2 separate regions of the Homo sapiens genome follow, and region 2 is linked to region 1. Evidence: fine-mapped QTL for protein levels in blood plasma. A gene starts in region 1. The other region holds a variant in brackets. All regions are shown on one strand. Distances are between the middles of the regions. Region 1 holds the start of PLCB2 (phospholipase C beta 2). Region 2 overlaps PLCB2 (phospholipase C beta 2).

Evidence for each region. PIP is the posterior inclusion probability: the model's chance that the variant is causal. The UK Biobank Pharma Proteomics Project read protein levels with antibody pairs (Olink). The fine-mapping took linkage between variants from a reference panel, not from the people measured, so its PIPs are less certain.
Region 2: its variant is fine-mapped to the plasma level of the PLCB2 protein (UK Biobank, PIP above 0.99). The variant lies in the coding sequence of PLCB2. If it changes the protein, the assay may bind it differently, which can mimic a change of level.

Annotation. Positions count from the first base shown.
Region 1 is chr15:40,305,637-40,310,995 of GRCh38, reverse strand. PLCB2 (phospholipase C beta 2) reads left to right here and starts at 3,061. Exons shown (of 32, transcript NM_004573.3): 1 at 3,061-3,407. The coding sequence starts at 3,324. It overlaps LOC112268152 (a long non-coding RNA gene), which reads left to right. Exons shown (of 3, transcript XR_002957721.2): 3 at 214-959. RefSeq lists a silencer at 728-931.
Region 2 is chr15:40,289,488-40,294,846 of GRCh38, reverse strand. It overlaps PLCB2 (phospholipase C beta 2), which reads left to right. Exons shown (of 32, transcript NM_004573.3): 19 at 427-581; 20 at 1,123-1,287; 21 at 1,822-1,921; 22 at 2,404-2,508; 23 at 2,689-2,783; 24 at 2,923-2,998; 25 at 3,197-3,241; 26 at 3,360-3,582; 27 at 3,664-3,829; 28 at 4,010-4,086; 29 at 4,175-4,270; 30 at 4,765-4,822. Among named protein-coding and RNA genes, the nearest start is that of ANKRD63, 9.1 kb to the right of the region's middle. RefSeq lists enhancers at 2,450-2,994, 2,995-3,540. The variant A/G (reference allele first, on the strand shown) is at 2,407.

The DNA of each region.
Region 1 (5,359 bases):
ACGTTTGTAGAAAGAACTGTTGAAGAAGGAATAAGAAACTGCCATTTTTCCTGTCAGTGTCTGCTAATAAGTAATAATAAAATAACAATGATAACTCATAATGATAATGATAGTATTATTGAGCTCATGTGTAGGCACTGTATTAAGTACCATTCATTATATTCTTTAATCCTTGCAACATCCCCATGAGGCATTATTATCCCCATTTTACAGGTGAGAAGGCTGAGGCCCAAGAAGGTTAAGTATCACAAGATAAACCAGCTAGTAAGTGGCTGGGTTCCTAGAGTGGTGAGTGTGGCTCCCTTTGCCAGACTGGGAAACAGACACCATAAGAGCCATCTTCCCTCCAAAAGAGGGCCAGCCCTTGACCAAGATGGACAACAGGGTTCCACACTCCTGAAACCCACTGCTTCAACCATCATGGCATCAGATAAGAAACCGACCTAGTCTGATCCTCTTATTTGGCTGGCAGCTGTGGCACCTGAAGGTCTGAGTTCAACTTCTGCCATTAAACTTCTCTGATGAGCAAACTGGGAAACCAATGCATGGGGCTCCCACATAGCACTGGCAAGTGAACAAATGAACTTGGGACATATGTGCTGGGGTCCAGGTCACAAGCATGTCCCTTGTGGGAGGCAACATTTGGTTGAATATAAGTTCTTACCACATTCTATGGCCCAAGGCTCCCACTTGCCAAACTCTCTGGCATAGGTGTTCCCGTGGGTCACAAATGACAGACCCAACCGCAACTTCCAGGACATGCATGCTTTGAGTGCACCCAGCAGGGGGCATCCTTGCCCTTCCACTGCCCACCCTGGAGGGGTGAGACTGGCCCACTGCAGGGTTGCCCTCTACCCAGCTCAGCCCAGGAGCCCAAGGCCACATTTCCCAAACGGGGCATTCATGTAACTACCCTGATTTTCTCTACTATTATTTACATAACATTTTTCTTTGTCAACACAAATTTTCAAACCTAAATGTATTTTTAAAAGCAAAAAGCTCTTTGATGAAGATTTTCCGCTCTCCTGACTGCCTGGATTTTCTGCATTTTTGGAGCTAGCTTTGCAGGAGGTCAGGATGTGAGCAGGAGAGTACAGGCCCCCACTGAAGCTACAGTTGTGGTCCCAAGAACAGTGCAGGCAGTGACATCACTGAGTAAAGATGGGCAAGGCTTTGTTCTGTGGATTCGGAGCTGGAGATGGAAAGGAACAGAGTGAGGAGCCCTGAAATCCTGAAATGAGGAGAGGAGGCTGTCCCTTTCCTCCTCAGGCTGAGGGGGAGGAATGGACTGGTCTCTCCAGGCCCAAAGTGGAGAGGGGGCTGATGGCTACAGGACAGATGAAAGGGAGGGACTTGGGTGCCGGGACCAGGGCAGCCGCAGGTGACAGGTGCAGGGGCTTTGGGAAGGGACAGGGATTTCCCTTGCAAAATCCATTCAAACAGATATCGAGGGAACCTGATCCCAGGGAGGAACCCAGAACAGCATGGGCTGCCAGAGGGGCCCCCAGAAGGGCCCCAGACTGGAGGGAGGGAGAGAGGAGAGATGACGCTAAGGGACTGGGGGAAACGAGGAAGAAGAGTCCTCTGAATTGTTACCATTTCCAGAGGCTTGGTCAGGCCCTGCTCCGGCTCCATCCCCCGGCCCTAGAATTGCTCTTCTGCAGATTATTTCTGTGCTGGGAATTCCCTTAGCTCCAGCCTCCACTGGGCAGTTTATTATCTTAATTCCGCATGAAGAGTGTCCTCCCTCACCCTCCACCCTGCCCTGGACCAGACCTCCAGCCGCGACAATTCTAGGGCCTGGGTGAGGGTCTTACCGTTGTTGGGGGTATGCAAAGCCCCATGGGGGGGTGACCCAGGGCAAAAGGCCAGGCCCCAGAGGGGAAGGAAGTCTTGGGTAGAGCTCCCTGCCTCCCAGGCTGGGCTAAGAAGGGCGATAAGAGGAGCAGATTAGGCAAGAGGAAGTGGGCTGGGCTGAGCTGGACTGGTGCTGAACTCCCTGGGCCTGGGGCAGAGTGTGGGTCAGGCACCTGAGCAGCTGGGGCTGAGCCTGGCCAACCAGAGCAGCCATCCCTCCGCCCCAGCCCCGCTGCAGGCTGGGGTACACAGCAGAGGCGGGCACACGGAGGAGAGAGGAGAGCGCAGTGGAGGCAGGGGCTAGGGCTGCTCAGTGGGGGTCCAGGCCTCAGGCAGTCCCAGAGGCCCAGAGGTGGGAGTCTGGTGAGGTGGGTGAGGGGAGTGATTGCCTTGCCTCATGTGCCCCTCATTTTCTTTCTTTTTTTATTTTTTTCGAGATGGAGTCTTGCTCTGTCGCCCAGGCTGGAGTGCAGTGGCGCCATCTCGGCTCATTGCAAGCTCCGCCTCCTGGGTTCATGCCATTCTCCTGCCTCAGCCTCCCGAGTAGCTGGGACTACAGGCGCCGCTGCCACGCCCAGCTAATTTTTTGCATTTTTAGTAGAGACAGGGTTTCACCGTGTTAGCCAGGATGGTCTCGATCTCCTGACCTCGTGATCCGCCCGCCTCGGCCTCCCAAAGTGCTAGGATTACAGGCGTGAGCCACCGCACCCGCCCGCCCGGCAGGTGCACCTCATTTTCATGGGGGAGGAAGCATTGAGAAAGAGGAGCCGTGTGTTCAGCAAACTTTGCTTATTCAAAACACTCCATTCCAGCTGGGCCCTGTCCCCACCCCACCCCTGCCTCTACGGTGCTCCCAACCTTTGGGGTCAGATGCCCATGCTCTGGACCCTTCCCCTGAGGAGGTCCTTTCTCCTAGTGAGCTCCCTGTGCCTTCCCTCAGTCCAGGCCTGGGCAGCAGTCTCCCCAGCTGGTCTCCATGTCGTCCTTCTCCAGCCCTCCTGGGCCAAATCTGACCAGAGACCACCACAGGGACTGAGAGGCCCTGGCTCCAAGGCGACCCGGCCTCATGACCACGTCTCCGCTGTGAGCAGCGCAGAGAAGGAAGCCCAGAGCAGGAAGTGCTGAGAGGCACAGGGTGGGGCTGGGGGTGGGGGCGGGGGCCTCCAGAAGAGGCGGGGGCTTCCTGCTTCAGCCTCCTTGGGCAGAAGCAGTGACCACAGGCCCCCATGGCAGGCAGGGCGGGTGGGAGGAGGGTGATTTACAAGGCAGATGGGCCTCTGGCTACAGCTCAGTCCTGCACTCAGCCAGGGCCACCCCAGGGGCTATAAGAGCAACTAGATTTCTGGAGCAGCTCGGGGATGGGTGCCATTTGAGCCCAGCTTGGCTCCCCCTCCTGGCTGGCCTCCTTCCTGCCCTTCTGCCTGCCTGTGTCTGCTGAGATTCTGCAAAGAGGAACGCTTGGCACCATGTCTCTGCTCAACCCTGTCCTGCTGCCCCCCAAGGTGAAGGCCTATCTGAGCCAAGGGGAGCGCTTCATCAAATGGGATGATGTAAGTGGGGCAGGGGCCTCAGCTGCTGGAGCACCAGGTGGTGGGGGCCGGGCTGCTACGGGGCTTTGCTTGGGTGGGAGGATTGGTTTATGTCTCCTAGGATCCAGGCGCCTGTGTGGTTTGGCCAGGCAGCTGACACCACTGCTTGGATAAACAAACCTGGGATTAAGGGTGTATGTCCCCAGCTAAAGGGCTAAGCCTTGGTTCTAGGTGTGAGAAGTGGGTGAGCTGCCTGGGTGGTCACTGGAGGTAGTTTATTTGGGTCTGCTTCTCTTCTCCTTCAAACCCCCAAGAGAAGAGGAGGAAAGTGCACCCCAGAGCTGAGGCAGGCTAGGAGGAGAGGTGAGCTCGTCCCCGCTCCCAGCACAGATGTCTTGCCCTTGCTCCGGCAGGGCGCTCAGACCCAGCTCCTTCACCCCCTCCACTGGGCATCATCCTGTCCAGGGAAGCCTTGCTCTCCCCTGCGCTGCTGTGGGGGCAGCCACAAAAGGCCCCTGGACCTAAGTGAGAACTAGAGGCTTCTGCTCCCAGGGAAGGAGCTGATTTGACTTCTGCTACCCCTTGCTGGGCTCAGCATTGCTCCCCGATGCAGGCCTGTCAGCAAGGGAAGGGGAAGACACTGCTGCACCCTGCAGCCCTCTCTCTGCTGTGTCTGTTCCTTCCTACACGGGGCTGCTCCCAGGCTCTGGTTCTCCTGGCCCCTGAAAATGTTACCTTAGGCCAGGGATTCTCTTAGGCTGGAGAGAACAATATGGAGATTCTCCTTCAGGGAGGGGAGGCTGCTGGGCTCGCCCAGTCTGAGAGTTAGAGTGCTGGGCTTGTCCCAGGAAGGGAAATGAAGGCTTGGTGGGGGAGGGAAGACAGCCCTTAGTGCTGACTTGTCCACCTGATGGGAGGTGGGATGAGGGGGTCTGGGTCTAGGCCCTTCGGGGCTGGGCTAGGCTAGGGGATCTCGCTGCCCATGACTATGGGTTGGGGCCCTGTGGTGAGATGCTTCCTGCTTCCCTAGGAGTGATGTGGGGTTGGTGTAGCATGGCAGTGGCATGGAGGTGACATGCCCCAGGAGCCTGTGGAATGAGGGAAGTGGCTCAGAATGAAAAGCGAAGTGGCCTCTCTCAGTTCCTCTGGGCAGTGTGTGTAACCTGACTGGGCAGAGGGTCACAGGGTGGCAGTGGAGGTCGGGGGTTGGTGGCCAGCGGAGACTGTCCTTCTTCCTAAGCTGGCACCTGTGTACCTGGCTGTTCCCTTCCCCTCTCCAAGGTAGGGCATTGGATGTTCTCTGGATCCTGACCTGCACAAGCAAGAATGTCCCAAGCCTATCCACAGGTCCATGCTGCTGTGAGACAGGGCTCTGCTTTCAGGCTGCTTTTGGCACAGTTAGTGGATGGCATGGGTGTGCTGTGCCATGTTGAATAAGCAGAATACATAGGATGTAAGCAAATCCCAACTTTATTTCATCTCCCATGGCCTCTTTACAATATATTTGGTAGGAGAAGCTCTCCCCCTGGCCATGGAAAGAAACTCTGCAAGGCCACAAGACATTATATTTACTCTCAGGTAACACAGTCCAGTGGTCACTTTTCATCACAAAATCCAGTCCGATGTCAGAAACTGGCTATAATCAAAACTCCAACCTTTATTTACACTGACATCTTCTACCCTTCTCCTTCTAGGAATGGTTTCAGGTAGGCTGCAGGCCCCCTGGAAAGGGCCTTGGTGGGATTCCCTGCTGGTCCTGCTCAAGGCCCCTCTAGGCATGAGCTATAGGGAGGGAGGTGGGAAAGGGGTAACCAAGTTCTATTTAAACAGGTGCTGTCATAAATTGGCTCATGCTTTCTGAGCCTGGCAGAAGCTTAAAGCTGATTCTTTCTCTGGAGGACATTTTTGAGGATTCTTGGGAGACCCACCCCTTCGAATGGGAACCTGTTGCTTGAAGTCCCCCCAGCATTTCT
Region 2 (5,359 bases), 16 kb after region 1:
GGAGTCCTGCTGTTAGTGTAGACTCTGGGAGCATGCCCAGGTGCGTGAGAATTTGGGGGTAGAAATGCATTAGCCTGTGCCCATGTGCCTGCGCATACATGATGGATGTAAAGATGCCAGGCTGCCGGCGTGGGTTCTGGCCGCTCCACCCAGGTATGTCTGTGGGCCACCTGCCCCAGCTGCCCCAGCTCCCACCACAGTCCCTCAGCCTGGCTGTGGCTTTCCTCCTTGCTGCCTCCAGGCTGTGGACCCTGCCTAAGAGAGGAGACACTGCAAGGAACCAGACTGGGACAGGAGAAGCCCTCATCCTCACGGTCCACCCAACCTCCCCATTCACCAGACAGCAAAGGCTGGGAATGGAGGAAATGGAGACTGGGCACAGCCCCAGGGCTGGGCCTTCCTCACTGAGTGTCCTTGTCCCTCCAGACTTGCCCATGCAGCAGAACATGGCAGTATTTGAGTTCAACGGGCAGAGCGGCTACCTCCTCAAGCATGAGTTCATGCGCCGGCCGGACAAGCAGTTCAACCCCTTCTCAGTGGACCGCATCGACGTGGTGGTGGCCACCACCCTTTCCATTACGGCAAGGCCCTGGGGCACACAAGTGGCCGGGAGGCTGAGGTCTTGAGTAGAAGGGCACAGGAGCCCACCCCTCACTCAACTCGCAACCCCCTCCCCTGATATCCTGGAAACTTCAGCCCCAGCCAGTTCCTGCAGTAGCAAGTTGCCTTGGAAACTGCCTCCTCCTCAGCACTGGAGGCTGCCACTTGGTCCCCATGGAAACCAACGGGAAGGGCTGAGGCTGGGGTGGGGGAGGGGAGGAAGAGTGGGCAGAGTGGGGCAGCCGGAGCCCCAGGTCCTGGGGGAAGGCATTGTTCCCTCTTTGGCTAGGGAGGGAGGTGGGAGGCCCACCTCTTCCCTTCATGCTAGAAGCACCCTGGTCCTCAGAGCTTAGCTGTAACCCGTGGGCTACACAGCCTCTCTACTCATGGCCAGAGCTGAGTGAGGTTCTTCATAACACCCAAGAACGAATGCTTCAGCTCTAGGCAGCCAGGGGCCCCAGATGCTTGGGGAAGAGCCTGGGTGGGGATTTGATGCTGGTTTTCCTGGGCCCCTACCCCCAGGTGATCTCTGGGCAGTTCCTGTCAGAACGCAGCGTGCGCACCTATGTAGAAGTGGAGCTGTTTGGCCTTCCTGGGGACCCCAAGAGGCGCTATCGAACTAAGCTGTCACCCAGTACTAACTCCATCAATCCTGTCTGGAAGGAGGAGCCCTTTGTCTTTGAGAAGGTGGGGGCCAGGGCATGGCAGGGCAGAGTCTGTCTAGTTCTTGGCCTCTACTTACAGACAAGAGGAAGTAAACAAGGCAGCTCCTTGACCTTCCTCCTCCTCCTCTTCCCATCCCTCACCCTGGGCCCTCCTGTTTCAAGAGTGCAAAACCCAAGTTTACAGAAGTTTACTTGGTAGGCAGAGTGTGTGTGTGTGAAGATTAGAGGCAGAAATGTGCACTCAGGGTTGAGGTTCCCATGGGAGTCTTTTGCCCCACTGGATACCCACTGGCAAAGCTGTCAAGGGCTATCTGTGCCAGGCCCCCTCAGCCTTGGGCTGCAAATCCAGCCCTCCTCCCCTGTGTGGAACCAGCCATGGCATGTGCTGTGGGGATGTCTTTGTATATGGCCTAGAGTGTGCCCTCTGTCTGTCCTCACCAAATCTGGTGACACTCACCATGTTCTCACACTGATGCTGAGACTTCTGGAGCCAGGGAGGGGGTCAGCTTGGCTCCTCTCTCCCCTCCCAGCCTGTCATGTCCCCAACTCTCCCCAGATCTTGATGCCTGAGCTGGCCTCCCTCAGAGTGGCTGTGATGGAGGAAGGCAACAAGTTTCTTGGACACCGCATCATCCCCATCAATGCCCTAAATTCTGGTAAGGAGTGGGGTCCTTCACTGTTCCAAGATCAGCAGCAGGAGCCTGTGCACAGGGTGGGGCAGCTTCTGGGAGGGGGCCTGGAGTGAGGCCTTACCTAAGCCCTCACATTGTAAGGAGTAGGGCAGAACAGTACCTCTCCAGGAACCTAAGAGAGGCGGGAACTCTGCCCACCTAACAGAATTGCTGTAATTTTCTGAAACGGCTGGGGCAGTTTCTCAAGTAGCTGACACTTATGGGCATTTAAAATTTGCTAAGGGCTTATAATACATTCTCACTTCATCCTCACAATAACCACATGAGTAGACACTCATCCCCTCTTCATAGATGAGTAAAGTCTCAGAGAGTTAAAGTAACCTGGCTGAAGTCACACAGCCAGGATGGTGCAGTGCCAGACTCAGACCCTTGGGTCCTAGGCTGTGTGTGCACAGTGCTGGCAGGAACGGGCTCTGGCTCACTGCCTACCCTGTCCTGTCTCACAGGGT[A/G]CCACCACCTGTGCCTGCACAGTGAGAGCAACATGCCCCTCACCATGCCTGCGCTCTTCATCTTCCTGGAGATGAAGGACTACATACCTGGTGCTTGGGCAGGTAGGAGCCCATGGCATGCCAGGAGCCTCGGGGTGTCTGTTCCCCCTTCCTTCCCATCAAGCCAGCTTCCAGAGTTGGGGTGGGATCCAGATGGGGCATCCTGGAGTGGGTGAGGACAGGGGAGACTTCCAGCCACATCTCCATATACACTATGTTGTAATGTCCTGTGCACCCACCCAGATCTCACTGTGGCCCTCGCCAACCCCATTAAGTTCTTCAGTGCCCATGACACGAAGTCTGTGAAGCTCAAGGAGGCCATGGGAGGTCTGCCTGAGGTCTGTGTTGCCTGCACTGCTGCCAGGGGCTCACCAGAGATTAGCCCTATTTATGGGAGAGGCTGGGGAGAGGGCCGAGTCCCAGGCTCGGGGAGAGAGGGCTGTCAAGCCACCTTCCTGACCTGCTCTCCCTACACAGAAGCCCTTCCCACTGGCGAGTCCAGTTGCCAGCCAGGTCAATGGGGCGTTGGCCCCAACGAGCAATGGGTCACCAGGTATGAGCTTCGGTCCGCACACCTACTGGGGGCACCTCCACCTCTGCACCCACAGGCACTTCCCTTTAAAAAATTTCACCTAGGGAAAGTGCGGGGCAGGGGGCACATACTGCGACTCCCAGGGGGCGGTGTGGAGGAGGCGAACGGAGCCAAGGGGCCCCCCAGAGCACCTGACAGCCCAGCCCGTGGCTCTTGCAGCAGCCAGGGCCGGGGCCAGGGAAGAGGCTATGAAAGAAGCTGCGGGTAAGGCCTGCTGAGCCCGGTGATCTCGGGGATGAGCCTGGGGCGGGTCCGGGGCTCCTTGGGGGTTGGACGGGCAGGACGGCCTGGCCGGTGTTGCGCCTCACCCGGGCCTCCGCAGAGCCGCGGACCGCCAGCCTGGAGGAGCTCCGGGAGCTAAAGGGCGTGGTGAAGCTGCAGCGGCGGCACGAGAAGGAGCTGCGAGAGTTGGAGCGGCGCGGAGCGCGGCGCTGGGAGGAGCTGCTGCAGCGGGGCGCGGCGCAGCTGGCGGAGCTCGGGCCACCGGGCGTGGGGGGCGTCGGGGCCTGCAAGCTCGGTCCCGGCAAGGGCTCTCGCAAGAAGAGGTAAGGCTCGTGGCGGTGCCCTGCCCTCTGCAGCGCGGGTGGCGCAGGATCTCAGGGCCTGTCCCCACGTGGCCTCCCCAGGAGCCTGCCCCGCGAGGAGAGCGCCGGAGCCGCGCCGGGCGAGGGCCCTGAGGGCGTGGACGGGCGCGTGCGGGAGCTGAAAGACAGGCTGGAGCTGGAGCTGCTGCGGCAGGGCGAGGAGCAGTACGAGTGCGTTCTGAAGCGCAAGGAGCAGCACGTGGCCGAGGTGGCCGGGAGGGGCAGGGCGACAACCCCACCAGCCCCACCGACCCCACCCCCCATGGACCCCATTCGCCCCTCTCACCGACCCAACCCCCTCACCGACTCCCCTCCACCGACCCCCGCCCCCCGTACTCCCTCTGAACAACAAAGGGCTTCTCGCCAAGCTTACTTCCTCTCCCTGCAGCAAATCTCCAAAATGATGGAGCTGGCCAGAGAGAAACAGGCGGCAGAGCTGAAGGCCCTGAAGGAGACGTCGGAGAAGTACGACTGCCTCCCTCCCACACCTGCTTCGCCTCCCAGCAAGGGCTCAGCCGCACAAAACAGCTCCTTCATGCCTGTCTCTCTGCAGCGACACCAAAGAGATGAAGAAAAAGCTGGAGACAAAGAGACTGGAGCGGATCCAGGGCATGACCAAAGTCACCACAGACAAGATGGCCCAGGAGAGGTGAGCCCTGGAGGGGAGGCCCAGGGCTGGGCAGACCCCACTTCAGGTGGAAAGGGGCCTCTCTACAAATGGATCCTGACTCACTTCCCAAAGATGCATCTGTCCCCTGGCTCTCCAAAAAGCGGATCCCCCCTGTCACCTTTGATCAGAGTGTCCTCCTCAGACAAAACACGGAGGCCAACACTACATGGGCAGAGCTCTGGAGGCAGCCAAGCCTGCAGGGAGGGAGCTGAGGCCTTGGGATTGTAGCCTGTCCACTGTGGTGGCACTGTTTCCCACGGAAGGACAGTGTGTTTTGATGGGGAAATGGTTCCCTCAGAGGGCCCCAGGACTCCCAGTGGCCCCTACATACTCCTTGGGTCCCCACACCTGCCCCCAGCTGGTTCCTGCCCTATGTTGGATTTCTCATTTGCCTACATCCTGCGTAGACTTCATGTTACCCTACTCTCCCTAGGGGTTTTCTCCCTTTTCTAAAACTCCAATTACACCAACAGGTTGAAGAGAGAGATTAACAACTCCCACATCCAGGAAGTAGTGCAGGTGATCAAGCAGGTGTGTAAGGGCTGTGTCCTTCCTAAACACACACACACACACACACACACACACACTCTCTCTCTCTCTCTCTCTCTCTCTCTCTCTCTCTCTCTCTTCACAAGTAGGAAGGGGTGGCCCCAGGCCCTGACTTTGCCCTTAGGAGATGCACTGCCTAGCGCTGTCCATGCAGCTGGGGTGGCAGGGGACATCCTGGGGTTCTGGCCTGTGTATGGAGGTTGGGGTACCAGCCTGAAGGGATCTGTCTCTGGCCAGTTCTCATGTGTGGAAATGATATGGGCTAACTGGCCCATATCAGGGCCAGGGGAGGCTGGGACTGGCGAGGGTCAGGGGATGAAGAGGGAGTGAGGAAGCTTCCTGAGGTGCCAAGGAATAATGGACCTGAAGCTCCCCTAGGGATCATTAACCACAGAACACAGCTGCCACCTACTGGGTCCTGACCTGTGCCAGGCACTCTGCCAGGTGCCTCACATGAGCTGTCTTGTATAATCTTTTACAGTCCAGTGAGACAGGTGCTGCTATCCTTATCTTACAAAT